Linked DNA regions of Homo sapiens: regions 1, 2, 4 and 5 are each reported to be linked to region 3. Evidence: microRNA targets listed by miRTarBase, many of them from high-throughput screens and not tested one by one. Region 3 holds a microRNA gene; each other region holds the end of a gene's coding sequence.

Evidence for each region. The annotated mature microRNA hsa-miR-7155-5p reads UCUGGGGUCUUGGGCCAUC and lies in region 3 at 1,345-1,363, shown strand. An mRNA with a match to its seed (bases 2 to 7 or 8) in the 3' UTR can be bound and repressed. Matches are read on the target gene's strand: a 7mer-m8 pairs with bases 2 to 8, a 7mer-A1 pairs with bases 2 to 7 and ends in A, and an 8mer does both.
Region 1: miRTarBase lists MYBL2 as a target of hsa-miR-7155-5p. Seed matches in the 3' UTR shown: 7mer-A1 at 4,220-4,226.
Region 2: the mRNA of MAN2B2 is a reported target of hsa-miR-7155-5p. Seed matches in the 3' UTR shown: 7mer-A1 at 4,092-4,098.
Region 4: miRTarBase lists ADAMTS14 as a target of hsa-miR-7155-5p. Seed matches in the 3' UTR shown: 7mer-A1 at 4,244-4,250, 7mer-m8 at 3,935-3,941 and 7mer-m8 at 3,647-3,653.
Region 5: miRTarBase lists TRIM71 as a target of hsa-miR-7155-5p. Seed matches in the 3' UTR shown: 7mer-A1 at 2,997-3,003.

The regions. Positions count from the first base shown.
Region 1 is chr20:43,715,335-43,720,434 of GRCh38, reverse strand. MYBL2 (MYB proto-oncogene like 2) reads right to left here. Exons shown (of 14, transcript NM_002466.4): 14 at 3,953-4,476. The coding sequence ends at 4,348. Among named protein-coding and RNA genes, the nearest start is that of GTSF1L, 9.1 kb to the left of the region's middle. RefSeq lists a silencer at 1-20.
Region 2 is chr4:6,620,817-6,625,900 of GRCh38, reverse strand. It overlaps MAN2B2 (mannosidase alpha class 2B member 2), which reads right to left. Exons shown (of 19, transcript NM_015274.3): 19 at 2,539-4,713. The coding sequence ends at 4,616. Among named protein-coding and RNA genes, the nearest start is that of MRFAP1, 17 kb to the left of the region's middle. RefSeq lists a silencer at 3,258-3,451.
Region 3 is chr11:64,338,149-64,343,248 of GRCh38, reverse strand. It overlaps MIR7155 (microRNA 7155), which reads left to right and starts at 1,345; the gene lies at 1,345-1,400. CCDC88B (coiled-coil domain containing 88B) reads right to left here and starts at 3,045. Exons shown (of 27, transcript NM_032251.6): 1 at 2,923-3,045; 2 at 2,497-2,642; 3 at 2,231-2,342; 4 at 2,071-2,140; 5 at 1,921-1,979; 6 at 1,745-1,828; 7 at 1,507-1,650; 8 at 1,110-1,255; 9 at 874-955; 10 at 569-727; 11 at 1-70. The coding sequence starts at 2,982. LOC102723878 (a long non-coding RNA gene) reads left to right here and starts at 2,457. Exons shown (of 4, transcript NR_188518.1): 1 at 2,457-2,708; 2 at 3,171-3,349. RefSeq lists silencers at 198-492, 2,357-2,406, 2,427-2,506.
Region 4 is chr10:70,760,424-70,765,523 of GRCh38, reverse strand. ADAMTS14 (ADAM metallopeptidase with thrombospondin type 1 motif 14) reads right to left here. Exons shown (of 22, transcript NM_080722.4): 22 at 3,083-5,100. The coding sequence ends at 4,671. Among named protein-coding and RNA genes, the nearest start is that of TBATA, 22 kb to the left of the region's middle. RefSeq lists an enhancer at 2,969-3,738.
Region 5 is chr3:32,891,301-32,896,400 of GRCh38, forward strand. It overlaps TRIM71 (tripartite motif containing 71), which reads left to right. Exons shown (of 4, transcript NM_001039111.3): 4 at 1-5,100. The coding sequence ends at 511. Among named protein-coding and RNA genes, the nearest start is that of CCR4, 58 kb to the right of the region's middle.

The DNA.
Region 1 (5,100 bases), not on the chromosome of region 3:
GGAACCCTAGGTCTCCTGTTTCTCCCCAACCCTGATGAGCCCATGGCTCAGTGTTGATTTTCCTCAGTGATACACCAGGGTCTGCTGAAAAAGTGGCTAATTAAGACTCCCAAACTACTCCTGGCCTATCAAAACTGCTCCTGCCCCAGTCCCTGCCTTGCTCTGAGAAGGACATTTTATCTTTATCCTGGACCACCTTAAGTACTCACATGTCCCAGTTCCTCATGCCAGCATCTCTATCAGTCAGCTTCTGCTGTGTAACAAACCATCCTCAATCTTAGGGCTTAAAGCAATACTGATTTATTATTCTCATGACTTTGTGATCAGATGGGCAGTTCCTCCAGTCTGGGCCAGATCAGGTGAGGCTGGATGGTTTAGGGTGGCCTTACTCACGTCTGGAGTCTCAACCAGAACAGCTAGAATTCTCACCTCCTTCAGCAGATTCTCCCAGAGTCCCTCAGGGGCAAAGTCAACCACATGACCCACTCATGGGAATAGCTACAGGGAGCAGTGATCCCTAGGGAGCCATTGCTGGAACAATCTACCACAGCCTCTATATCTGTGAGCCTCTCACCTCCAGGCCATGCTGGTCACCAAATGCCAGACAATCATCTGGATCTTGCCAGAATGGCAGATTCACCCTCTGCCATTTTTTTTTTCCAAGATAGTTTTGCTCTTGTTGCCCAGGCTAGAGTAAGTGCAATGGTGCGATCTTGGCTCACCGCAACCTCCGCCTCCTGGGTTCAAGCGATTCTTCTGCCTCAGCCTCCAAAGTAGCTGGGATTACAGGCATGCGCCACCATGCCCGGCTAATTTTGTATTTTTAGTAGAGACGGAGTTTTTCCATGTTGGTCAGGCTGGTCTCAAACTCCCGACCTCAGATGATCTGCCTGCCTCGGCCTCCCAAAGTGCTGGGATTACAGACATGAGCCACCACGCCCAGCCTCCCTCTGCCATCTTAACTAAGCCTCATCTTTCCCTCCTGCCTGTCCCTCTCCCAGGCTGACCGCAGCACCCCCACTCCTGTACTACCATCCTGAACTCAGGCCCTCTGCCCCTCAGCGCTATCTGGCTAACTCTTTCTTGCTTGCCACACTAGCCTGGGAAACATCAGGCCTGGATCAATCCTCATGACCAAGTTCCCCAAACTCCTGATCAAACAGCAGCTGGGCCCCCAGCACCTCCTGAGTGGCAACCAATCTGCCTTCCCATGTGGGCTCTCCCTGTCCCCATGATGGCCAGGAGCTGTCAAATCTGACTCCTCCCCACTTTCTCTGAGCAGATGACTGGCCTCACGGTACCCCCTGCTTTACTTCAAAGTTCCCTCTGGCACATTTTATATCAATTGGTTGGTTTATATCTGTCTGCTTTTTAGAATTTAAGCTCCATGGCCGGGCGCAGTGGCTCACGCCTGTAATTCCAGCACTTTCGAAGGCTGAGGCACGCGGATCACAAGGTCAGGAGATCGAGACCATCCTGGCTAACACGGTGAAACCTTGTCTCTACTAAAAATGCAAAAAAAAAATTAGCCGGGCATGGTGGTGGGTGCCTGTAGTCCCAGCTACTCGGGAGGCTGAGGCAGGAGAATGGTGTGAACCCAGGAAGCGAAGCATGCAATGAGCCAAGATCGCACCACTGCACTCCAGCCTGGGCAACAGAGCAAGACTCCATCTCAAAAAAAAAAAAAAAAAAAAGAATTTAAGCTCCATGAGAATAAGGTAGTTTTTTGGTTTTTGTCTTTTGAGATAGGGTCTTGCTTTGTCACTCAGGCCGGAGTAGAGAGGCACAACCACAGCTCAAGAGATCCTCCCACCTCAGCTTCCTGAGTAGCTGGGACTACAGGCATGAGCCATCATGCTATCATGCTAAGTTTTTAAAATTTTTTGTAGAGATGGGGTTTCACCATGTTGCCCAGGCTGGTCTCAAACTCCTGGGCTCAAGTGATCCTCCCACCTCAGCCTCCTAAAGTACTAAATTACAGGCATGAGCCACCACACCTGGCCTGGTTTCTATCCTTTACTGCTATATCTTCAGCACTACAACTATGCCAGACATGTGGGGGTAGGGTTGGAGGGTCCCTCAATAAATGTGGTTTTGTTTTTGTTTTTGAGACAGTGTCTCCCTCTGGTTGCCCAGGCTGGAGTGCAGTGGAATGATCTCAGCTCACTGCAGCCTCGACCTCCTGGGCTCAGGTGATTCTCCCACCTCAGCCTCTCGAGGAGCTGGGACTAAAGGCACATGCCACCATGCCCAGCTAATTTTTTCTATTTTTTTTTTAGTAGACAGAGGGTTTCATGATGCTGCCCAAGCTTATCTCAAACTCCTAGACTCAAGCAATTTGGCCTCCTCGGCCTCCCAAAGTGTTGGGATTACAGGCGTGAGCCACCATACCCGGCCTAGTATTTATTTAATGCATGAACCAAAGAACAAGCCCACAGCACACAGAGCTCAGTGAGGATGGTATGTTAAGCTTGCTGTTACCTGCAGCCACTCTGTTCTTTACAGCCTCCTCCCTCCAGGACAGGAAAGGGCCTGAGGGCAGTCCCTGGGAATGAGCAAGACCTCAGGCAAGAGAGGGCATGGGGTACAAGCCCCTGGAGCCTCACAGGCGTCAGCTCAGAGTGTAGCCAGTCAACGCCCTGCATGTGAATAACCCACTGGTGGTTTGTTAAAAATCCCTTTTTGCAGGCTCCACCCCAGGTACCTGACTCAGAGGGCCCAGGAATTTTCATCATTAGCCTGCAGCGCACTGCATTTGAGTTTGACAAAGTTGTTCCACCGAGTCTTGGTGTGAGCTATAGGAGACAAGGTAATGCAGCCTCCATCCTCACCGTGGGGCACAGGTCATCCACCTTGGGTGACCAAGGACTGTAGGGAGCGGCCAGTGACAGACCTTGGGGAAGAAGTTGGGGAGGGGATAGGCTCCATGCTGACAAATCACAAAAGCTCAGGGCGTGAGTTAGGTGTGGTTCATCCATGGAACCTGCAGGTGCATGCAGCCCAGCCACATGGGCTGCGGGGTGCGGGGTGCAGGGTGGGAAGCACAGAGCCCCCGCCCCTCCTCGGCTTTAGATCAAGAACTGGGACACTGCCAGGACCAAGCACGGCATGCCTGCATGTGAATGGACAGGAGTAGGGGGACTGTAGGCGGGAGCTCAGCAGGGAGAAAGGGGTGTGTCTGAGGCCAGACACATCTGAACTCTGGCACCCTAATTAACTCAGTCCCCATCCCTCTAGAGTTGGCCGCATCTCTTGCCCCAGGTGAGGACCTGCCCCAAGTCTGCTCAACCTCTGCCCACAGGGATGTTCATGTGCCTGTCCCATGAAGCCTGCTGCTGAAAACATCAATTCCTCATTTAGACATTCTCAGACTTGGCATCTTCCCCTCTTCAATCCCCAGTGACTCTTCCCAACCACCTGCCAAGCACTGTGCTCTGTAGCCACAACCCTAGGGATTTAGGGCCACAAGGGCAGAGGCTCTGGCCCATCCTGGCCTCCTGCTCAGCCTTGGCCAATGGGGCTAGAGGGTTCTGCCCAGCTGCCTTCACCCCTCTTCCTTGCTTACTGGTCTGACCTGGGGGCCACGCTCAGCTTGAGGCAGGGGCTTGTTAATGGGCAGGTGAGCCACCCAAGGCAAGGGCCAGGCAAGGCCCTACTGCACCAACCCATCGTCCTCCTCCGCCCCCAGTCTCTGCCCACCCCCGCCCAACCCCATGGCTATTAATACTCAGAGCTTTGCAGAGATGCCCACTGGGTGCAGAGACGAGAGAAATTGCTCTCATCTCATTGTGCCCCTCTGTGGAAACAGGGTCAAGGGCTCAGGCCTGGGCTGTGCCGATAAGGCTGGCCTCTGAGGATGAGCATTCAGGTCCCTATATCCCAGAAGAGGCCCCTAGGTCACCAGGGAACCATGAGCAGGGCCCAGTAGAGAGGCAGAGTCCAGACCAGCACAAAGAGAGAGGCAATTTTATTCTTCCAAAAAAATGCACCAAGAGAGGGTGAGCACAGGAGCACCCCTGGCCACATCCCCCATCCTAAGCAGGGTCTGAGATGAGGCCAGGCCTGACGTGGGCTTGGGAGAAGCTGACGGAGCTCCCTGTGGCCTTGGGGAGGGAACCAGGCAGACCTGGAAGTGGAACTTTGTTGTTAGCACCAGGAGCCGCCCACAGCTGGGCTCGGCAACAGGGCAGCACATGGCCCTGTTGCCTCCACCTGAGAGTCTGGGGAGGGGCTGGTGGCAGAAGGCTCCCTGCAGGAGGTCACCTGAATGACTCTCAGATTCACAGACCCCCTCTGCCCCCACAACCCCTGTAAACATGAGAATGGGCTCGTGACACCCTCAACACCTCAGGACAAGATGAGGGTCCGAGATGTGTGGCTGGGCTTCAGGCGGCCCAGGAGCTGCCGGGCTTTCTCCTGCATGAAAAGCTGGTCCCTGGTCCCCCCGCAGGCCACCGTCTTCCAGGCACTGGACATCTGGGAGGAGGCAAGAGGGTTACCATCCAGGCAGGGACTATGTGTTCCCAACAGACCCTGGTGATCCTGGCCAGGGAAGGGTAGAGTTATAAGCCTCCCTCCCCTAGAAGCCAGAGCCTTCTTATTCTCTCTCCACATTCCCTGTGACCCTGGACAAGTCACTTCCTGGCTGTGGGCTTCCTCAACTGTAAGTAGGACGCTGGACAAGGAGACATGGCCATGCACTGCCCGCCCCGTGCAGCACCAGCCTCGAGGAGAAGCCACAGCCAGGAGGCGGGTGAGAAGGAGCAGTGAGACGGGTCAGCAGCCTGAAGCCAGCCCCTGCTTGAGGACAGACATGTACTAAGCAAACCAAATACAGGGATAATGACTTAGTTACAAGTGAAACCCAGGCCACAAAAGAGAGAATGGCAGAATGGGGGTATCTCTACAGAATGTAGGGTCAGAGAAGGCTTACCCCTAAGGAAGCAGCATTGAGACTGAAATCAGAAGAGTAAGTTAAGCAAATGCAGCCACGGGAAGTAGCAGGAAAAGCACCCAGGCAGAGGAACAGCCTATGCAAAGGCCCTGAGCTAAGAAGGCGGGCACTGCAGGACCCCCAGGGATGGCCAGCACTCAGCCCTG
Region 2 (5,084 bases), not on the chromosome of region 3:
CACACCTGGCTAATTTTAAAATTTTTTTTAGAGATTGGGTTTTACCAAGTTGCCCAGGCTGGTCTCCAACTCCTGGGCTCAAATGATCTCTCCCCCTCAGCCTCCCAAAGTGCTGGCTGCACCAGGCCAGCCAGATTAGTCTTAGTTTTGCTTTTTTTTTGGACAGTCTCACTCTGTTGCCCAGGCATGGCTCATTGCAGCCTTGACTTCACTGGCTCAGGGGATCCTTCCACCTCAGCCTCCTGAGTAGCTGGGACTACAGGCGTGTGCCACACCTACTTAAATTTTGTTACTATTTATAGAGACGGGGTCTCCCTATTTTGCCCAGGCTGGTCTCAAACTTTTGGACTTACGTGATCCTCCTGCCTCGACCTCAGCCCAACTATTCTCATCTGGTGGGTGGAAACCTGCGGCTAGCCGCTTCCAGGATTGCTGGTCAGTGCACTTCTCTCTTATCTCTGCTGAAGGTCCTCTTTCCCTGAGGCTGTTTTTAATGAATAGTGTGTAAGCGTAAGCAAAGCTGTAATTATACTCAAGCAAACACAATTTTTCTTTAAGGTAGACTCAGTACTGTTATATTAGCACCCTCCTAGAAACCGAGCCCAGAGAGCTGCCTTGCCCCTTCTGCCATGTGAGGACGGAGCAAGACGGCACCATCTATAGACCAGGAAACAGCCCCTCCCCAGACACCGAATCTGCTGGCACCTTGGACTCCCAGCATCCAGAATTGGGAGAAATAAATTCCTGTTGTTGATAAGCCACTCAGTGTATGGTATTCTTTTTTTTTTTTGAGACGGAGTCTCGCTCTGTCACCCAGGCTGGAGTGCAGTGGCACAATCTCGGTTCACTGCAAGCTCCGCCTCCCGGGTTCCCGCCATTCTTCTGCCTCAGCCTCCCGAGTAGCTGGGACTACAGGCCGCCCGCCACCACGCCCGGCTAATTTTTTGTATTTTTAGTAGAGACGGGGTTTCACTGTGGTCTCGATCTCCTGACCTTGTGATCCGCCCACCTTGGCCTCCCAAAGTGTACGGGATTCTATGACAGCAGCCCAAACGGACGAAGATGTGCACTTGTGTGTGTGTGTGTGTGTGTGTTTTTTTTTTTTTGAGACAGAGTTTCGCTCTTGTCGCCCAGGCTGGAGCGCAGTGGCACGATCTCGGCTCACCGCAATCTCCGCCTTCTGGGTTCAAGAGATTCTCCTGCCTCAGCCTCCCGGGTAGCTGGGATTACAGGTGCCCACCACCATGCCCGGCTAATTTTGTATGTTTAGTAGAGACGGGGTTTCTCCATGTTGGTCAGGCTGGTCTCGAACTCCTGACCTTAGGTGATCAGCCCGCCTCGGCCTCCCAAAGTGCTGGGATTACAGTCGTCTGCCACTAAGCCTGGCTAATTTTTGTATTTTTTTAGAGAGGGGGTTTCACTATGTTGGCCAGCCTGGTCTCGAACTCCTGGCCTCTAGTGATCCACCCACCTTGGCCTCCCAAAGTGCTGGGATTACAGGCACGAACCACTGTACCTAGCCCCAGTGCACTTCAGAATCATCCTGTCAAGTTCCGCAATAAACCTGTTGGGGATTGTCAGTGAGCAACGTAGTTTATTGGGAGTTTGGTGGTGGTGGTTTGTAAAAAAAAAAAAAAAAAAAAAAAAAAAACAAACAACAACAACAAAAAACAGGCCATTCACAGTGGCTTGAGCCTGTAATCCCAGCACTTTGGGAGGCCTAGGTGGGAGGATCGCTTGAGCTCAGGAGTTCAAGACCAGCTTGGGCAACATAGTGAGACTGCGTCTCCACAAACATTTTAAAAATTAGTTGGGTGTAGTGACTCATGCTTGTAGTCCCAGCTACTCAGGAGGGTGGGATGGGAGGACTACTTGAGCCCAGGAGTTAAGAGGTTCCAGTGAGCTATGATAGTGCCACTGCACTCCCACCTGGGTGACAGAGCGAGACCCTGTGTCTAAAAAAGTAAAATGAAATGAAATAACAACAAAGCAACAAATGGATGTTAGATTTTAGCCAATATTCTGTCTATTGTGGGTGGGTTTTCCCCTGTCATCTATATTCTTCTCACTCTTCCCAGTTGAGGGTGCTGGGTGCTGGAGGGACCGCAGGGGGAAGTGGCTCTCTTGCTGTTTCTGTTCTGGACGGGGATGGTCAGCATGGGTGATGGTACTTTCAGTGCACATGATTTTTCTACAGCCTGGCTGCGCTGGGGATAACATTTCCATAGTCTTCTTTATTTTTTTCTGAGACAGGGTCTTGCTCTATTACCCCGGTTGGAGTTAGTGGCATGATCATGGCTCACTGAAGCCTCGACCTCCTGGGCTCAAGTGAGCCTCCCACCTCAGCCCCCAGAGTAGCTGGGACCACTGGTGCACACCACCACGCTCGTCTAAAGAATAGTTTTTGTAGAGATGGGGTCTCACTATATTGCCGAGGCTGGTCTGGAACACCTGGGCTCAAGCGATCCTTCTGCCTAGGGCTCCCAGCGTGTTGGAATTTCAGGCATGAACCACCACGCCTGGCCTCCGTAGTCTTCCTTTTTTTTTTTTTTTTGAGACGGAGTCTCACTCTTGTCACCCAGGCTGGAGTGCAGAGGCGGAGGTCTCCTCCGCCTCCCAGGTTCAAGTGATTGATTCTCCTGCCTCAGCCTCCCGAGTAGCTGGGACTACAGGCGCACACCACCACACCCGGTTAACTTTGTATTTTTAGTAGAGATGGGGTTTCACCATGTTGGCCAGCCTGGTCTTGAACTACTGACCACCAGTGATCCGGTTGCTTTGGCCTCCCAAAGTGCTGGGATTAAGGCATGAACCACTGCCCAGCCTCCATAGTCTTCTTGACACAGAAACCAAGCCTCATGCAGCCCACATGCTCTAAAGGGCTCCTGCCTCACTCCTTGTGCCTCAACCTCCCACTGCACATCCATGCCTCTGGTGGCTGCTCACCTGACCCCACCTCACAGGGGTGGCCTATTGCTTGGTCAGCAACTCCAGCCCAGCTCCTGCCTGGCCAAACCAGAGACTGTCTTTGCTGTCTGGTGGCCAAACTGCACGTTGTCCAGAGGTCTGACTCCTTCCAAGCTGGTCCTTTCTGGGTACTTTCCTTCAGCCCTAGAGTACCAAATAATTTCCTACATCTTACAGTTTACTCTTTAAAACGGTTTAGGCCGGGCACATTGGCTCACGCCTGTAATCCTGGCACTTTGGGAGGCCGGGGCAGGCAGATCACCTGAGGTCAGGAGTTCCAGATCAGCCTGGCCAACATGGTGAATCCCCGTCTCTACTAAAAATACAAAAATTAGCTGACGCAGTGGTGCATCTCTAGTAGCAGCTACTCGGGAGGCAGAGGCTGGAGAATTGCTTGAACCCAGGAGGTGCAGGTCGCAGTGAGCTGAGATCTTGACACTGCACTCCAGCCTGGGCGACAGAGTGAGACTCTGTCTCGGGAAAAAAAAAAAAAAGTTTTAAAATTGAGATATAATTCACAGACCATAAAATTCATCTTCCAAAGTTTTTAATTCATTGGTTTCTAGTATATTCACAAAGTTGTGCAACCATCATTCCACAATTTCATCATCTTCCAAAGAAAGCCCGTCCCTGTTAGCTGTCATGCCTCTTCTCTCTTCCTCCAGTACCTGGCAACCACCAATGTGCTTTGTCTCTGATACACAGATTTGCCTATTCTGGACATTTCACATAAACTCGTGATTGGCTTCTTTCACTTAGCGTAATATTTGTAGGATTCACTCAGGCTGTGGCATGCGTCAGAATTTCCTTCCTTTTTATGGCCAAATAATATTCCATTGTATGGACAGAACACACTTCATGTCTTAATTCATCTGTGGATGGACATTTGGGTTGTTGCTACCGTTTGACTTTTGAGTAATGCTGCTATGAACGCGGGAGCACAGGTATTGTGTGGATGGATGTTTTCAATTCTCTTGGGCATAGACCTGGGAAGGTTATACTTTTATTGATATTAATAGTTCTGATATTGGACATCCCTGCTGTGTGGTTTCACCTCTCATGGACTCTGACGGCTGCTGTGCCTTCTCTGCTCGGCAGGCGGTGCCCTGAGGCACAGGTGGGCGTCTGGGGCTGGAACTCTCGCTAGGCGCTACAACTTCCTCTCCTGCCCTGTGGCAGAGCCAAGCCCCTTGCAGGGCTGTTGCCAGCATGGGATGAGTCTATGAAAACACGTGGCACGCAGTAGGTCCACAGTTACCACTGGCAGCCTGGCAAGCCTGGCAGGGCCCGGACGGCAGATGCGCTTCGGTGCTGCTGTGAGTCTTGTGCTCTGCCTTAGGCAGAAAGTCCTGGGTTTGTGTTTTGTGAATGAATGACGCATGAGTGTGCCAAATATCCTTTACGTGACAGAAGAGGAGAGGGCTGGCTTGATTGAGTGTGGGGGGGAAGAACCTGGATCTTGTAATGTAATTTTTGTTTAAAAAAATTAGGGAAAAACCCCAAATATGACCATTTCCTGCCATTAGCCTGCAGATGAGCAGCTGACTCCCCAGTCCCATCCCTCCGCACTGCTTTTCCCTGTCCTGGGTCTGTTCTGTTACATGGAGTTCCTGGGGGAAGCCCTGGGGCCGGGGCATCTGCCCAGGGCTCACTGCTGTTGAAAGTGAATAAAGAACGTCCGGATTTCCTTTGGGTGGACGGTGATGATGGGGCCTCCTGGTGGCCTCGAGGGAGAGGTGGTGTCACCTAGGGGAACAGAGGTGATCTGTCCAGTGTGGCCTGGGATGCCTCCTCCCAGCCTCCCTCTCACCCCCTGCACCTGTCTACAGTCTGCTGTGGCTCCCAGCCTCCCTCTCACCCTCCTGCACCTGTCTACAATCTGCTGTGGCTCCCAGCCTCCTTCTCACCACACTGCACCTGGCTACAGTCTGCTGTGGCTCCCACCGTGGCAACGGCCTATGGCATCCCCTTCTGCCAGGACTCCTGTGGGCCTCTTGGCGTTTCTGCCCACCCTGAGGGCAATTCATAGGTTGGTCCTGGCCCTAGTGGCCTCAATTCCTCATGGGTGTTGCCCTCAAAGCCCAAGAGCTTTCTGAGACCATCTGGTGAGTCTGCCC
Region 3 (5,100 bases):
GGGCAGCCTCCAGCTGCTCTTCCAGCAGCGCCTTGGACGCCTCCAGCACCCCCGAGAGCACCCGCTCCTCCTGGTGGGAGAGCAGGGAGAACCGGTAGCCACGCAGCCCCCATGCACTCCAGCGCCTGAGGGTCCCAAACTCCTTCCCCTCAGCCTGTCACAGACCCTGCCTCCCTCCCCCACCCTGCACCCCATCAGTCTCTAGGCCCCGCCACTCCCTTCCATCTTCTTCCCACCAAGATCTCTTCAGGTACTTTCTCCCTCGCCCCTGGCCCCGCCCTTTGTGCAGGCCCCGCCCTTCTGTCCATGCCCCGCCCCTCCCCCCCGGGAACAGCCCTCCTTCCAAGGCTGCATCACTTACACAGCCCCCCCACTCCCCTACACCTGCCCCATCCTCTGGAGGCCCTTTCCCAGACGCCACCTCCCTGAATTTGTCCTCACCCATTTCTCCACCTGTGACTGTCCCCTCCAGAGAACCTGCCTCTCTGCCCTCGGGACCCAATCTCGCCCCTCCTCCTGGCCCGCCCCCTCGCGCACGCCCCGCCCCGCGGCTCCGTCTCCGCCTCACCTCCAGCTGACTCTTGTAGGCCTCAGCCGCCTGCAGCCGCTCGCGGCAGCGCCTCAGCTCCTCCTGCAGGCGGGGCAGGCGGCCGGCCCGCTCCCGCAGCGCCTCTGCCTCCTCGCGGTACAGCTCGGCCCGCTTGGCCTGTCCCGACAGCGCCTGGGCCTGGGCCAGACGGTGTGGAGCTGGGAACAGCCAGCCGCGGGCCAGAGGGATTAGGGACGGGAAGGAGCCGGGTTGGGAGGGAGGCAATGGGACCGGGTGCGGGGAGGTTAGGGAATGCCGCGGTGGCGGGGAGCATGTGAGCGCACCTCCTGGCGGAGCCTTCTTATTTCGGCCTCCAAACCCTGCACCTCGGCCTGGGAGTCTAGCAGCAGCTCGGCCTTCTCCTCCCTGGAGGGAAGGGGAGTCTAGGGAGGGTCTGGGGGCCCACAACCCCCAGCCCTTCCCAGGCCTGACCCCTCCCGTAGCCACCAGGGCTAGGGTCCCATCCAGGCTTAATCTGCCCCTCTCCACTCAGTCCCCTTCCCAGGCTGCGCACACTCACAGCTCCTGCCGCAGACGCCGCAGCTGAGCCTTGGCGTTGGCCAGCTGCAGGGCCAGATGGTGCGAGGGGCCCTCGGCGGGAGCCCTAGAGGGAGCCTCAGGCCTCAAGCAGAGGGGTTCTCGCTCCAGCAGCAGTTCAGCCAGCCGCTGTAGGTCAGGGGTCAAGGGTCAGGACTAACTTATCCAATGCCTCTGCACATCGACCCCCAACCACAACACCAGACATGGGGTTGTGGTCTGGGGTCTTGGGCCATCTGGTTGTGACATCACTGATGGCCCAAGACCTCAGACCACAACCCCATGCCTGGGCCCCAAACTTCCATCTCCCTTGCACAACCGGCTCCCTGATGGTCCTCCAGTTCCCCAACCTGAGTCCACGATGCCCCTGCTGCCCCTACCTGGGCCCCCAGGTCACGCTCCCGTGCCAGCTTCGACAGTGTCCCCATCAGGCTCCGGGACAGCATCTCCAGCTCGGCAGGTGCCAGCTCCCCAGGATCTGGCCCAGACAGTGCCAGCACCACGCCGGCCCCCGGCTGGGTCACCTGGGGCGCAGGAAGAGCAGTTCAGTGGAAGCCGCGGTGTGGCAAGGGCGTCCCAGGTGCCATACCAGTCTGGGCTGCCGAACCGTCTCAGTACCTCCTGGATGGCAGCGGCCAGCTCGCTCTGGACCTCGAGACTGAGGCCCTGGATGTGGCGGATGAAGAGTTCCCGGTGCTCACACTGAGGGGAGACAGGAAGGGGAGCTGGTGCAGGATCTCCCTCCTCTACCGCCAAAGCTCGACCCTAACCTTTCCTTCCCACCGCCGGCTCACCTGTACTGACGCTCCCAACAGTAGCCGAAGAACGCCTTCCAGCTGCTCCACCGCTTCTTCTGCAAGGCACATGCCACAAGGGGTTAACTGGGGCGGGGAAGGTAGAGTAGTGCGGGGGCAGAGGCAGGAGGGTGTGGGTGGGGAGAGCACCTGAGAGAGGGTCAAATCCCAATGTCTGGAGGTCTGGGGGTGGCGACAGGATCAGCAGCTGCAGCTCCTCCTGGAGGCAGAGAGGCAGACTATATGAGGCGCCTTCCCGAAGGGGCTCCTCTTCCCCTCCTGTCTCCGCCTTTCCCTCGAGACCCCTTACCTGGTAGAAGTCCCTCAGTCGGCCCCACAGGTGGTTCAGGTTCCACACTCGCCAGGCAGCAGGTCCGTCAAGGCCTCTGAGCATCCGAGGTCCCCCTCGGGAGCTGGGGGCACTATGAGCCGGAGGTGGGCTCGAGGACCCGCCTCCCGTCAACAGGCCTCGCCCACCGTCCCTCAGGCCCCGCCCACTGAGCATCAGGCTCCGCCCACCCGCTTCCCCTCCTCTCAGATCCTTCCCCGCCACCGCCCCGGCCCGATGCCCCTTACATGATGCCCAGCACCCGGAGGAGCAGGGCCCCATCGCTGAGGCGCAGGAATCTCTTCTCCAACCAAAGGGGCGGCTCTTCCTCCTCTTCCTCTTCTTCCCCCTCCGAGTCCTCCGCCTCCCCGACCAGCCCGGCCAGTCCCAGCGCCTGTGAGGAGCCCAGAGGGGTCAGCCGACCAGCAGAGTGAACCCTGAGCCCCTCCGACCTGCCCCAGTGAGCCCAAGCACCCCTTCTCACCCGTCCTCTGAGTGCCTCTGTCCCCTCTTCCCTCACCACAGCCCCCCACACCATATCTCCATCCCCCACATTTGAACCCAGCCCTCCCCTCCGGCCTGGTTCTGCCTCACCCTCCCCCGGCCAGCGCCAACACCAGCCCCTGGCTGGGGCTCACTTCCCCTCCCCAACCCGCTGCCACCTGCCCCCTCACCCAGGTAGCCAGACTCCCACTCAGGAAGTCTCTGAGCCTGGGCCCCTTGCCCCCCTCCATGCCCGGGTCGGGGTGCCCGTCTCACTGTGGCAGCTGCACCTGCCCTGAGAGGAAGAGGAAGTCCCCGAGTGGGGGATCCCGGGGCCAGCCACAGACACCCTGTGCAGCTTCCTCCTTCCGGGTGCAGGCGGGCCTGGGCAGTCTGAGTCCTACCTCAGCCCCCACCTCACCTCCCTGCATCCTCCTAGCATCTCTGCAGGGCTAGCCCAGAGGTTGGCGGCGGAAGGCCCACAGCTCCCCTGGCTCCATGGGCAATGACCGAACAGCCCTTCACCTCTCTGGGCCTTGTTTTCTCAAACTGAAACTGGAGAGGATGACCCCAGCCTGGGACCTTCGAGGGCCTCAAAAGGGCTCTGGGCCTTGCGTGGTGAGTTTGGTCACCCACACACCCATCTTCCCAAATGCCAGGCTTCACTCACTACAGCGTTCTTTCTTTTCCCTTCAGTATTTCTCAAAGTTACCCAAACCACATCCCCTGGGAAGCCTGGTTCAGATGCTCCTCCAAGAAGCCTCCCTTGAACCCCAGATAGAAGGGAGCATCATTCCTGTGACCTCACCCCACCCCATCCTCTATACACTCGAGACTGTTGTAGCCATACTAGGTGCTATGAAGGGGAGGGGATTTGACCTCGGCAGGATGATCAGGGAAGGCATCCTGGAGTACGCATGAGATCAGGGATGGCTGGGTTAACAGGGCAAAGTGGAAAGGAAGGGAGGGTATTCCAGGCAGCAGGAACAGAATGTGCAACTGCTCTGAGGCAGCTGGAAGCATGGTCAGCAAAAAGATTGGAAATTATGCATGTTTTATCTATTCCAAGATGCTTAATGTTCACGTTTCACTTTTTGTTTTGTTTTGTTTTTAAGAGACAGAGTCTGAATCTGTGACCTAGTCTGGAGTGCAGTTGCAAGATCACAACTCGCTGCAACTTCAACCTCCTGGGCTTAAGCAATTCTCCTACTTCAGCCTTCTGAGTAACTGGGACTACGGGTGTGTGCCACCACACCTGGCTAATTATTTTGCTTGTTTTTTGTACAGACAGAGTCTTGCTGTGTTGCCCGGGCTGGTCTCGAACTCCTGGGCTCAAGTGATCCTCCCGCCTTGGCCTCCTGAAGGGCTGAGATGACGGCATGAGCTGCCTCACGCAGCCCCCATTCTACACCTCTGAAGTGAGTTTACATGGTACAGTTGCTGTCTGGCTAGCTGCCGTCCCAACATCACTGTCAGGACCCACACCTGAAAAGCACCAGCATCAAATCCTTCAGAAGAGTGTCAGCAGCTTGGAAGAAATCCTAGAGGCAAGCAGAACCCTTTTTAGCCCTGGGACTCAAATGGTGGGAAACCCCAGGGGAAGGGAACCAGGCTTGTCAGTGACACTCCCTTTTTTTTTTTTTTTTTTTTTTTGGTGAGACGGAGTCTCGCTGTGTCTGTCGCCTAGGCTGGAGTGTAATGGTGCAATTTCGGGTCACTGCAACCTCCGTCTCCCGGGTTCAAGCAATTCTCCTGCCTCAGCCACCTGAGTAGCTGGGATTATAGGCACCTGCCACCACGCCCAGATGCTTTTTTGTGTTTTTAGTAGAGACAGGGTTTCACCATGTTGGCCAGGCTGGTCTCGAACTCCTGACCTCAGGCAATCCACCCACCTCGGCCTCTGAAAGTGCTGGGATTACAGGTGTGAGCCACCACGCCCGGCCTGTCAGTGACACTCCTAGAGCAGAGTGAAAACTCGGCTCCACTTCATCTGCACAATTGTAAAGCTGGCTTAAGAGCGCCTGGCTGTTTTATGGAATGTTTGGAGCAGTACTGCTCTCCGTAGAACTCTCAAGGACTCAGAGAAGGAGGTGGCAGGCAGACACAGACATCACGACTCTCAGACCAAAAATGATTCAAACAAGTTGGACTCTAAATGTGAAGGAGTTTTCTGAACATGGTAACCAATTTATTTTGCTTCTATTATCCTTTTTATGTGTGCATGAGAATTATATATGATAAGAATCTACATTTAAGTGAAACAGAGCTCTTTCGAGAAATACAAAAGAAAAATTCTAGTGATGAAAGAACCTTGGGACATCGTTAACTGGCAGCATTCTCTTTTCTTAGTGACATTTTTATAATCGATG
Region 4 (5,100 bases), not on the chromosome of region 3:
ATAGCAAGAGTGACTTTTACTACAGTTCTCAATAAATTTCTCATCTCCAACTGAGACCTCCTCAGCCTGGAATTCACTGTCCATATCACTATCAGCATTTTGTTCACAACATTCAACAAATCTCTAGGAAGTTCCAAACATTCTCACCTCTTCCAGTCTTCTTCTGATCCCTTCAATCTGTTCCAGCCTCTTCCTGTTACCTACTTCCAAAGTCGCTTCCACATTTTCAGTTATCTTTATAGCAATGCCTCATTTCTCTGGTACCAATTTTCTGTATTAGTCCATTCTCACATTGCTACAAAGAACTACCTGAGACTGGGTAATTCATAAATAAAAGAGGTTTAGTTGGCTCATGGTTCCACAGGCTGTACAGGAAGTTTATGGTACTGGGGGATTTGGTTAAATAAATGGTCATCTAGCCATACCGTGGGGTACTGTGCAGTCATTAAAAATGAAGACGTGGCTGGGCACGGTGGCTCATGCCTATAATCCCAGCACTTTGGGAGGCTGAGGCAGGCAGATCACCTGAGGTTGGGAGTTCAAGACCAGCCTAACCAACATGGAGAAACCCCATCTTTACTAAAAATCCAAAATTAGCCAGGAGTGGCGGTGCATGCCTGTAATCCCAGCTACTCGGGAGGCTGAGGCAGGAGAATCACTTGAACCTGGGAGGCAGAGGTTGCAGTGAGCCGAGATCGCACCATTGCACTCCAGCCTGGGCAACAAGAACGAAACTCTGTCAAAAAAAAAAAAATACGTAGTTCAACGTAGCTCAGGATGGAAACGTGTTCTTATTGTATTGCTGTAGGTGGAGTAGGAGGGGGAGAAGATCCCAGATGACGTGTATGTGTATAGTATTAATAATACTCACCCAGCGTGCATGTGTGTGTGTACAGACACAAACAATCTTGCACATGCACACATCTGGAATGGATAACTAAATTATTAACAGTGGTTATTGCTAAGTAGAATTATAGATTTTTTTTCCTCAGGTTGTAAAATTTTTCAATAATGAGCATATATTTCTTGCATAATTTTTTAAAGGAGAAGATTTGTGGTGTAGGCCCCAGAGATTTCTAATCTGTGGCAGCTGGGTCCCTGGGACTGCCCCAGCTACATTTCCACCCCTTCTTGCTCTTTCCCTCCTCCCCCCAGACCCCTACCTTCCCCCAAGCCTTCAGTCTCCTGAAGCCAGGTAGGGAGCAGGGGCTCTTTGGAAGAGCCCACAGAGTTCCAGGTCAGATGGCCCAGGCTCTGTGCCTTCCCCTCTTCCCCTGCCTGCTGTGTCATTTCAGGTGGAAGGCCTGGAGTTTCACCAGGAGGGTAAATCAAAAAAGGGCCCAGAGGCCAGTCTATTGCCCAGGAACATGATGAGGCTCCAATTGCCCCTTTTCTCCTCTGGAGGAATGGGAAGGTAAGTCTCCTGCTGTCCCTAAACCCTTGCCATCCCCCCGATCCCTTCTCCACCAGGAGCTTTCAGGCCTTACTAGCCCAAATGAAGTCACAGGCTGGAACCTCAAGGAGGCCATCTGGACACAGAAGACAGCCATGGTGAGGACTTCCCAGGCTCTTTGAACAGGAGGCTAAGGGTGACTCTGTGCAGCACTGTCCCTACTGACCCCAAGGGCAAGGAGATGCTGGAACTTCAGGGGGCTTCCTCCAAAATGACAGGTGTGCTGGCCCCTGGCTATGGGTTGAGGAAGCTTGGCAGACCAGGGCAAAGGCTCTGGAAGCCAGTCGGGGCTGATAGGCTAGACTCTGGGCACCTGGCTGTCACTGCGGCAGGGCTCTGCCAAGCATGGGGCAGGTGTGGATAAAGCCTTGAAGTCAGAGTGGCCTGGAGAATCCCCTCCAGGGAAGAGACAGGCAATCTGGCACCCTGGCACCTGCACCCACCAGACTCCAAACAGGAAACCGTTTAGGGCAGGAAGAGGTGAGACCATTCCCATATGGCCTTTCCCACTGGGCTCCTACAGGAAGTGAGGGATGTTTCTGAGGCTGCGATGGAAAGAGGGCCCTTGGTGCTGTTCCTCTATCTTCACCCGTGAATCCTTTCATTTTCTCAGTTTCCACCAAAACAAGCAAAAATCCTGACCCATAAAAAGCCCTCAATTTGGAGAGTGGACATTTCCAGATGTTTGGGGAGATGGCAACAGAAATTTAATTGAACCTTAGACATATTAGACAACCTGCATCCTAAAAAGCCCCCAGCCAAAGACAGATGGAGAGGCTGCCCTCTCTGTGTTCCCACCCCCACGGGGGTAGGAGTCTCCAAACCATTTTCTCCTCGGCCTTAAGGGGAGGAGTGAGCTCTGCACAATGACAAGAAGCCCTTTTGCCAGCTTCACCTTTTCTAAGTGCCCAGCAGTGTAGATTCTTTTACTCCATGACACAAATTCTGCCACTGCTTAGAAGGCAAAAGTGGTTGCAGTCATTTTGCTTTCAGTGACAGTCTCTTTGTTCTGTGGTTGCTAAGATTCCTTTAGAGAGCCCCTCTTGTTGTTCTTTTTTGTTTTTGAGACAGGGTCATGCTCTGTCACCCAGGCTGGAGTGCCATGGCGCAATCACAGCTCAGTGTGGCCTCAAACTCCTGGGCTCAAGGGATCCTCTCACTTCCACCTCCTAAATAGCTGAGACCACAGGCGTGCAACACCACGCCTGGCTAATGTTCTTTTTATTTTTTGTTGAGACGGGATCTTGCTATGTTGCTCAGGCTGGTCTGGAACTCCCACCTCCAAAAGTGCTGGGATTACAGGCATGAGCCACTCTGCCCCACTGGCCTCTAGTTGCATTTAAACAGGTTGAGAATTTCACAATAACCTGAAATAAAGTGTTGTCCTGGAACTTGGGCCTCAGGGAAACAGGAGATTCAGTAGCCAAGAAACCAGTGGCAACCCTGTGTCCCACCTGGCAGTGACGCAGCAGGGCATGGGTGGAAAGGTGGAGGGACAGGAGACAGCCACAGTGAGCTGCGCCCCCACCCCCAGTTCTCTTGCTACAGCCCAGCCCTCAACCTTCGAGCTCTGGCTTCATTGTCCCCTTCCCATAAATCAGAGAGAGAAAAAGAAACACACACACAACCTTTTGGGGTCCAATGGCGATGTTAATAAATACATAAAATTTTAAAGATCTGGATTTCCAAGGCACAAGAGTTTAACACAGGCCAGGCTGGTTCTCACAGGAATGACTCCGCGTGTGCCCCAGCATCCCAGGGAGGGGAGGGCAACAGGGGGAGGGCGGGGAGCCCCCCAGGACCTCCACTCTCCAAAGGGGTTGCAGGCCAGGGGCCCACTACTCATGTTCCTCCAGGCTGGCTCAGAACAGCCCCTTTGCCTTGGGGAAGGAAGAAGTGAGAAGCACCTCTATCACCTGGCAGGAGTTTAGGAGACATCCTCCAAGACCCCGGAGGTGTCCTGGGACCCCCTGCCACTTCCTGAGAGCCAGAGGATCTAAGACTGTTACCTGTCCCTTGGAGGTAGCATGGCCGGCAGCTGAGCACAGCTCAGGCCCTTACAGCACCGTGGGTGAGTGTGTCTTCCCCACTCCAGCACCAGGCCAGGGGCTGGCACCCTGCCCTGGGGCACTTGGCCTGGGTGGCCCTTGTCATCTCCAGGGCCAGGCTATGAGTGGACTCTGGTCCTCAGTCCTGGGGTCCAACCACCCCTGGGAGAACCACACACTCTGGCCCAGCTTGAGCCAGGTAGAAGATGAAGATGTCCGACTCCAGCAGGAGCGATCTTCGGAGAAGGGCAATGATTGAAGGGACAGCCTGAGAAATCGTGTTCCCTCTGTGTCCCACAGAGTCCCCTTCCAGGCTGAGAGTGATAATTGAAGTTGCCATCCTGGTGGAGTCAGGGAGTGAGCGCCAGTTTGGAAATCCCTGGATGCTGAGGACTTGGGGTCCAGGGTGTCCTGAGCCCCCTTCTCTGGTGGGCTGGGGTGAGATTGGGGGGCCAGTCTGTAATCTGGAGTCACTAGAAGTAACACTAGTGACATCTGCAAGGCCAGAGTATGGCCATGAGCACCATCTTCTGGCCAGCAAAGACAAACTGGCCTCTGCTGCCTGGCCTCAGCTGGTGGAACTGCATGGAGCTCTTGGCTTCCAGGAGCTGGGCCTGCGATCACCTTGTGTTCCACCCCCTCCAGCCCTGCAGCTGGGAAGCCTCATGCCACATTCCCAGGCCCCCCTCCTCTCGGCCTGGCTGTGAACAGTCCCCCACCTACCCTGGCCCTGCTTTGCCTTTCTGGGGAGAGGGGCCAAATATGCAGGGCCTCCACAGGGGTCCTCACAGTTCCGGGAAGGCAGGCAGCCCTGACAGCTTCTAGCTACAGACCAGCCGGGATTCAGACCTGCCCAGGCCCAGGGTCTGTGAGGAGGGAGCAATAGTTGACCCTGGTCTTGGCAGGGGAGACCAACAGGGGCCCTGAGAGGGTCAGTCCCGCCGGGGGCAGCTTGCTGAGGTATCTCCGATTAGGGCTTTCCCTGATCTTTGTCTTCCTCCCACCCCGCTTTGTGGGGTAAAGAGCATCACAGCCCCAAACGAGAAGAAGGCGAATGATTTAAAATGAAGTCTGTGCTTGCGCCTGCCCTGCTATGTGTGTCCTCTGAGCTGGGAGTCACGGGGCAGTACACAGAGTGTAAACGTGCCAGTGGGATGGCAGGGCACAGCTCATGTCACCGGGGAGGCAGCAGGGAGGCTGGTGCCGGGATGTCTCAGGTCTTCTCCAGGTTGCCCTTTGTCCTCAGGGACTGGCGTAGGTGTCTGAGTCCAGCCCCAAGGCAGCCCCCCGGGGGTGGTAGGGGAGATGCTCCAGGATGCTCCAGGGATTGGTGTCTCAGGGGCAAAGGGATGCTGGGTCCCTGGGGAGCTTGTATCCAGAGCTCCTGGGAGCTGTGTGGCTCGGCCATGCTGATGGTCCTCTGATCCCGTTGGCTTTCCAGGAGGCTCTGCAGCATCTGCAGGGTCCTGGGGTCCTGGTAAGGGGCTTCCAGGAGTGGAGAAGGGGGGCAGTGAGGTTGGGCCAGGGTCTGGGCCAGGGTTGGGGCCCGAGGCCTTCTTGATGCAGGACACACAGCAGAGCCGGTGGTAGCCGGGAATG
Region 5 (5,100 bases), not on the chromosome of region 3:
GTTCAACTACCCTTGGGATGTGGCGGTGAATTCTGAGGGCAAGATCCTGGTCTCAGACACGAGGAACCACCGGATCCAGCTGTTTGGGCCTGATGGTGTCTTCCTAAACAAGTATGGCTTCGAGGGGGCTCTCTGGAAGCACTTTGACTCCCCACGGGGTGTGGCCTTCAACCATGAGGGCCACTTGGTGGTCACTGACTTCAACAACCACCGGCTCCTGGTTATTCACCCCGACTGCCAGTCGGCACGCTTTCTGGGCTCGGAGGGCACAGGCAATGGGCAGTTCCTGCGCCCACAAGGGGTAGCTGTGGACCAGGAAGGGCGCATCATTGTGGCGGATTCCAGGAACCATCGGGTACAGATGTTTGAATCCAACGGCAGCTTCCTGTGCAAGTTTGGTGCTCAAGGCAGCGGCTTTGGGCAGATGGACCGCCCTTCCGGCATCGCCATCACCCCCGACGGAATGATCGTTGTGGTGGACTTTGGCAACAATCGAATCCTCGTCTTCTAATTGCATTTCCTAGGTTTCTGTGTTTGGGGTGTGTGTGCGTGTCTCTCTCTCTCTCTCTCTCTTTCTCTTTCTCTCTCTTTTTGAATTTCAAAGAAGAAACAGTCTCAGGGAAATTTCTTTTTTCTTTTTTTTTTTTAAAGAGAACAAGAAAAGTACAACATTGCTTAAGTCCTACCTCATCTTTATTTTTTTACAGATGAATGTACTTATCTTTTCTGCAGGGATTGAGCCTGTGAAGTGATAATTTCTATCTACCTCATAAATCTTTACATTTCCTTCTGCAACAGGCCCTCTTCCCCTCCTCAGTGGAGTTTGCATTTCCCTCTTCCCCTGCGTGGGGCATGATATGCACAAGCCTGGCATCTGTATGGCTGGGAGGGCACTGGATGTGTGTGGTGGGGTGTATTCTGTAGATTGAGCCAAGGAAACACAAAAAAAAACTACTAAGTAAAAAAACAAAAAACTATAAAACATGGAAAAAATAGGATTTGAAATGCATAATTATAGAATACCTGTGTTCTTGAGAATACTGTTTATATGGGGTTTAGATTATGTTGTGTTGTTTTGATCTTTTTGGAAAATCTTCTCTTTTTAAATGCTGCAACAGAGAAATTTCCTCTGTTCTCTGTTTATACCTCAGTGTGTTTAACATCCTCTTCTGCATCGTTTCTTGATCTTAGACGTTGTGGCTGTGGCTTGCTAGCCAAGAAAAGCAGACCCTTCATATTTTAGGGTATATAATCTTTGTTTCTTTTAAGGGAGGGTGTGTGCATGTTTGTTTCAAAGCCATCTTGCACCCAAGTAGTAAAGCTGAAAATGACACACTGCCTCCCAAAGAACCTCTCCTTTTCACACTTTGGTTTCTTAAAAAAGTATATAGATGGTAGCTCAGGATTTTTGATTAAACATATTCTCAAAAGTTATGCTTTCTTATTTTGCTGTTAGGTTATAAAGGGTTAAATGGAAGGAAAAAGGAAATTAACCTCGTTCTCAGAGAGAGGGTTTTCAGGCATGGGCTGACGTGGACATGAATGTGGGTGGACATGCGTGTGCTGAGGGAGTCAGGGAGCACATTAAAGAACAAGGCACCCCCAAACTATAGGAACTCCACAGAAAGGGCAGGGTCTGCCCTGACCCGCGAGTGCATGTTGTTCTGTAGTGCTAGGGGTTTCTTTTCCTAAGAAGAGTAGGCAAAGGAAAGAACTTTTATTTTACAAGCACAATTTTTTCCTGCTTTGAAAGTTCAGGGAAATAGAAGGTTTGAAAGTCAAATTAATACCAACAGCCCAGTCCCACACCCTCTGCTTGGGTCACTTTTTATAGGATTGTTTGCACCCAGGCCATGCTTTAGGACCTCATGGTTAACATGAATCCCCCCGCCCCCTCTCCCCCCAAGGCCTTTGACCATAAAGGATCTAGAAACCAAATTGTCCCAACCTGAAATGTAGGATGTAATGTCTTTTCTTAAACCTGTAACTCGGTACCAAAGAATGAAAATTTAAGGCTCCCACTGCAGAACTGTGGGGTAGAATCTGTGTCACTTTACAGGATTGGTTGGTTGTAAGCTGGACTTGGGTACAAAACTTGTGCTTCTGGGCATTGTCTGTCTTTCAAGTGCAAAGCAGATGTAGCTGATACCCTGCTTGTCAGAACCCAGTGGGTTCCTGCAATGCCCCAAATACTGAAATAAGAACCAAATTCTGGAGGAGCCCTCCTCAGGGAAAAGAGGGACTCTCAAACAAACGTCAGTGACTTACAAGGGAGACCTCTTGTTTAAAGACTTATGGATCAACTTCTGTTCCTCTGTTTAAGAGAAATTTCTATTGCAAAATGGGTATCGTTTTAAATGAGCAGAACAGATTAACAAATGGAGCAATTTGTTTCTGTTATCCCAATAGAAAAGGAGATGATGGGGACAGTGTGACAAGTCAATCAAGTTGCTTTTCCCGTACACCTCTTTTGGACGTTTAATTTACTACTACTACAAGCTACTCTGTCTCTTCCCATTGCTTTAATTCTAGGGTTTCTGAGTGACCAAAATGGGAAGGAAAAAAAAAACCTCATCTCACAGAGGAGAACTGCATGCAATAAAAGATTCAAAAGTTGGAAAGTAGCTTCAAACTGCTGCTGGCTCCCAGCTGCTGTTACAGGGTGGGAAGGTGTTAGGAAATGTTGTTTGTTAGAAGCTCCTTTTACTGTAGAATTTAATAGTGAATCCTTCCCCAATGCCTATTCAGTTGCCTTTTGGCCGTTAAGCTCTAAGTTCTTTGGTAAAGAGTTAATATAATTAAACATTTTTACTGTTTTCTATTTTGGAGTAACTTGGTGCTGATCTTCCTTCCCTTTCCCCAGCTGCCCAACAAGCCACCCTTTAAACACCAAAGACAACTGGTTTTAAATGCTTGAAAAAAATTTTATTGAGGAGATGGATCTTGATTAAAATCTTTTCATCATCATTTTCATTCTGCTCTTTTCTTTCTAATTTCCCCAGATGTAGGAAAATTTTGGGACCTGAATGAGAAATGTTCTTGGTGCATAACAGTAACTAGAGCTCCTTATTTGACATTTTACTATGGATGTGATCGAAAAGCCAAGATTTTCGCTCCATGGCTGAAATTATCAGGTCTTAATTTACAGACTTGTAAATTTGCAGGCTTAGAGCAACTAGAACTATCCCCTGAAATAGGTGTGTAGGTCAGAGATACTACCTCTTTGTCCTCAGTGGTGGTATATCTATCTCCTTACCTTTCTGTACCCAAAATGGTGCATGACTGGTATTTGAGAAACATGGTCACATTTGGAAAGCTTTTGTTTTTAAAACATTGGCGGTTTTTCCTGCCCGTGGTTGACTCCTGACCCATAGGGATTGGTGCGAAGCACTTTGGAGAGTGTTTATTGTATGATGTGAAATGTTCTAAATCAAAGAAAGATGATAAAAGCCAACATTTGGCAGTCCCTAGTGTGAAACTGTGAAAAGTACCTGTGTTTAAATGCATAATCTCCTGCCCGGGTAATGCCAGGTAGCCAGGAGTTGGGTCAAAGAAGGGAGTCGTCATCCTGATGGAAAAAATAAGGTCCTGGGTATTATGAGGTAGGAGAATAAAAAGGTTTCTGGGGAGTAAGTATGACAATTACTAGTCCCCATGGAGGTCTGATCTGGTCAGGTGGCAAGGGTTGGGTGGGGTATGATGTAAGCTCAGTTTATGTGTGGAGATGCCCATTGGGTTTGGATATATAGGTTTGAGTATTGAGATGTTTAAAGGACATCTAACCCATAGGTAAAAACTACTTTTGCTTGACACTGACTTAACATTTCAAAAGTGTTATTTTTGGTCCCAAGATCTAATGCTGTCTCAGAACATGTGCCCTGTTGTGGCTGCAAGTGGCACTCAAGTTGACTAGAGCACAGTGACCTGGGTTGTACCCCAAGTGCACTAACTCCTCAATGCCCTTTTAAGTCTAACTTATTTGGGAAACACATAACAAAGGGTACCATAAACCGAATCCAAATTACGTGTTGGGCCAAAAATGTTGCCAGAACTGAGGCACTTTGTGATGGAGTTGCAAGAGATAGCTTGAGATCGGCTCAGTCTGATTTATTCTAGTTAAGCCAAAGCTTAATTATTTGAGGAGGAAAGTCTTTTAGGCTTGAAGCAGCAAAATACTGTTTATATATGTGTTACCTTCCTCGTTGGAAGATTCTACGATTGCTCTGTTCTGGTAGGTGGTGAAAGATATGCCAAAGTTTTAGGCTTGTTTTTCTGATCTTATTTTTTTAATCCAGTGGTGCCAAAAAGTATTTAGGGTATGTTTAAGGTATATTTAAAACATCACTCTGAATGAGTTTCCAACAGTCTGGGGCTGTATAAAAGTCACACTCTTGTACTTGCAGGTGATGGTGTCACAGGGCCAGGGCCTCCAGAGCTCTACGGCTTTCTCTGGTTTTCTATAGGGCCAAGGGCACAGGACGCAGCATTCCAGACCACACTGACTGCTTTTGCTGAGTTTCTACCTCACTTGTGGCAAGTCATCTACCTCATGTTAGCATCTGACAGGTCTCAAAAAGAATAGTATTAATCCAGTGGGCAGTGGGTGGGAGTGGGAAGCTACCTCTAAAAGAAATGTTACCATAAATCTACAACTGATTTCTCCCAGGAGAAATGTTCTACTTACCTTGAAAGAGAAATGTCAGGCAAATGTAGTCATAAATCCAAGTAGTTCTTAGCAATCTGGCTTTTCCCCCTCAAAAAGAATTATGCATACCATTACTGTTGTTCAGTATTATGAAACTACTGGTTAATCTGACCTATTGGAGGACTTAACTACAAATAAAGACCTTTAGGTCTCTTTCTCTTCAAGAGAAAAATATTTTATCTGTATTTCGAATGTCTGCAAATAATACCCTTTAGGAGCAATTCTAAAGGTCTAGATCTTGGAAACATCAAATATTTGAAGGGAATGAGAATCCTCTTGACTTCATGATTGTATTTGTAGCTCTCTGGACCCGGCAGGACGTTCATCACCATGATGTTGCAACAATCACTGTTTTGACTGAGCAGTGACTGTTGAAGTGTGTATTGCTCTTTTGT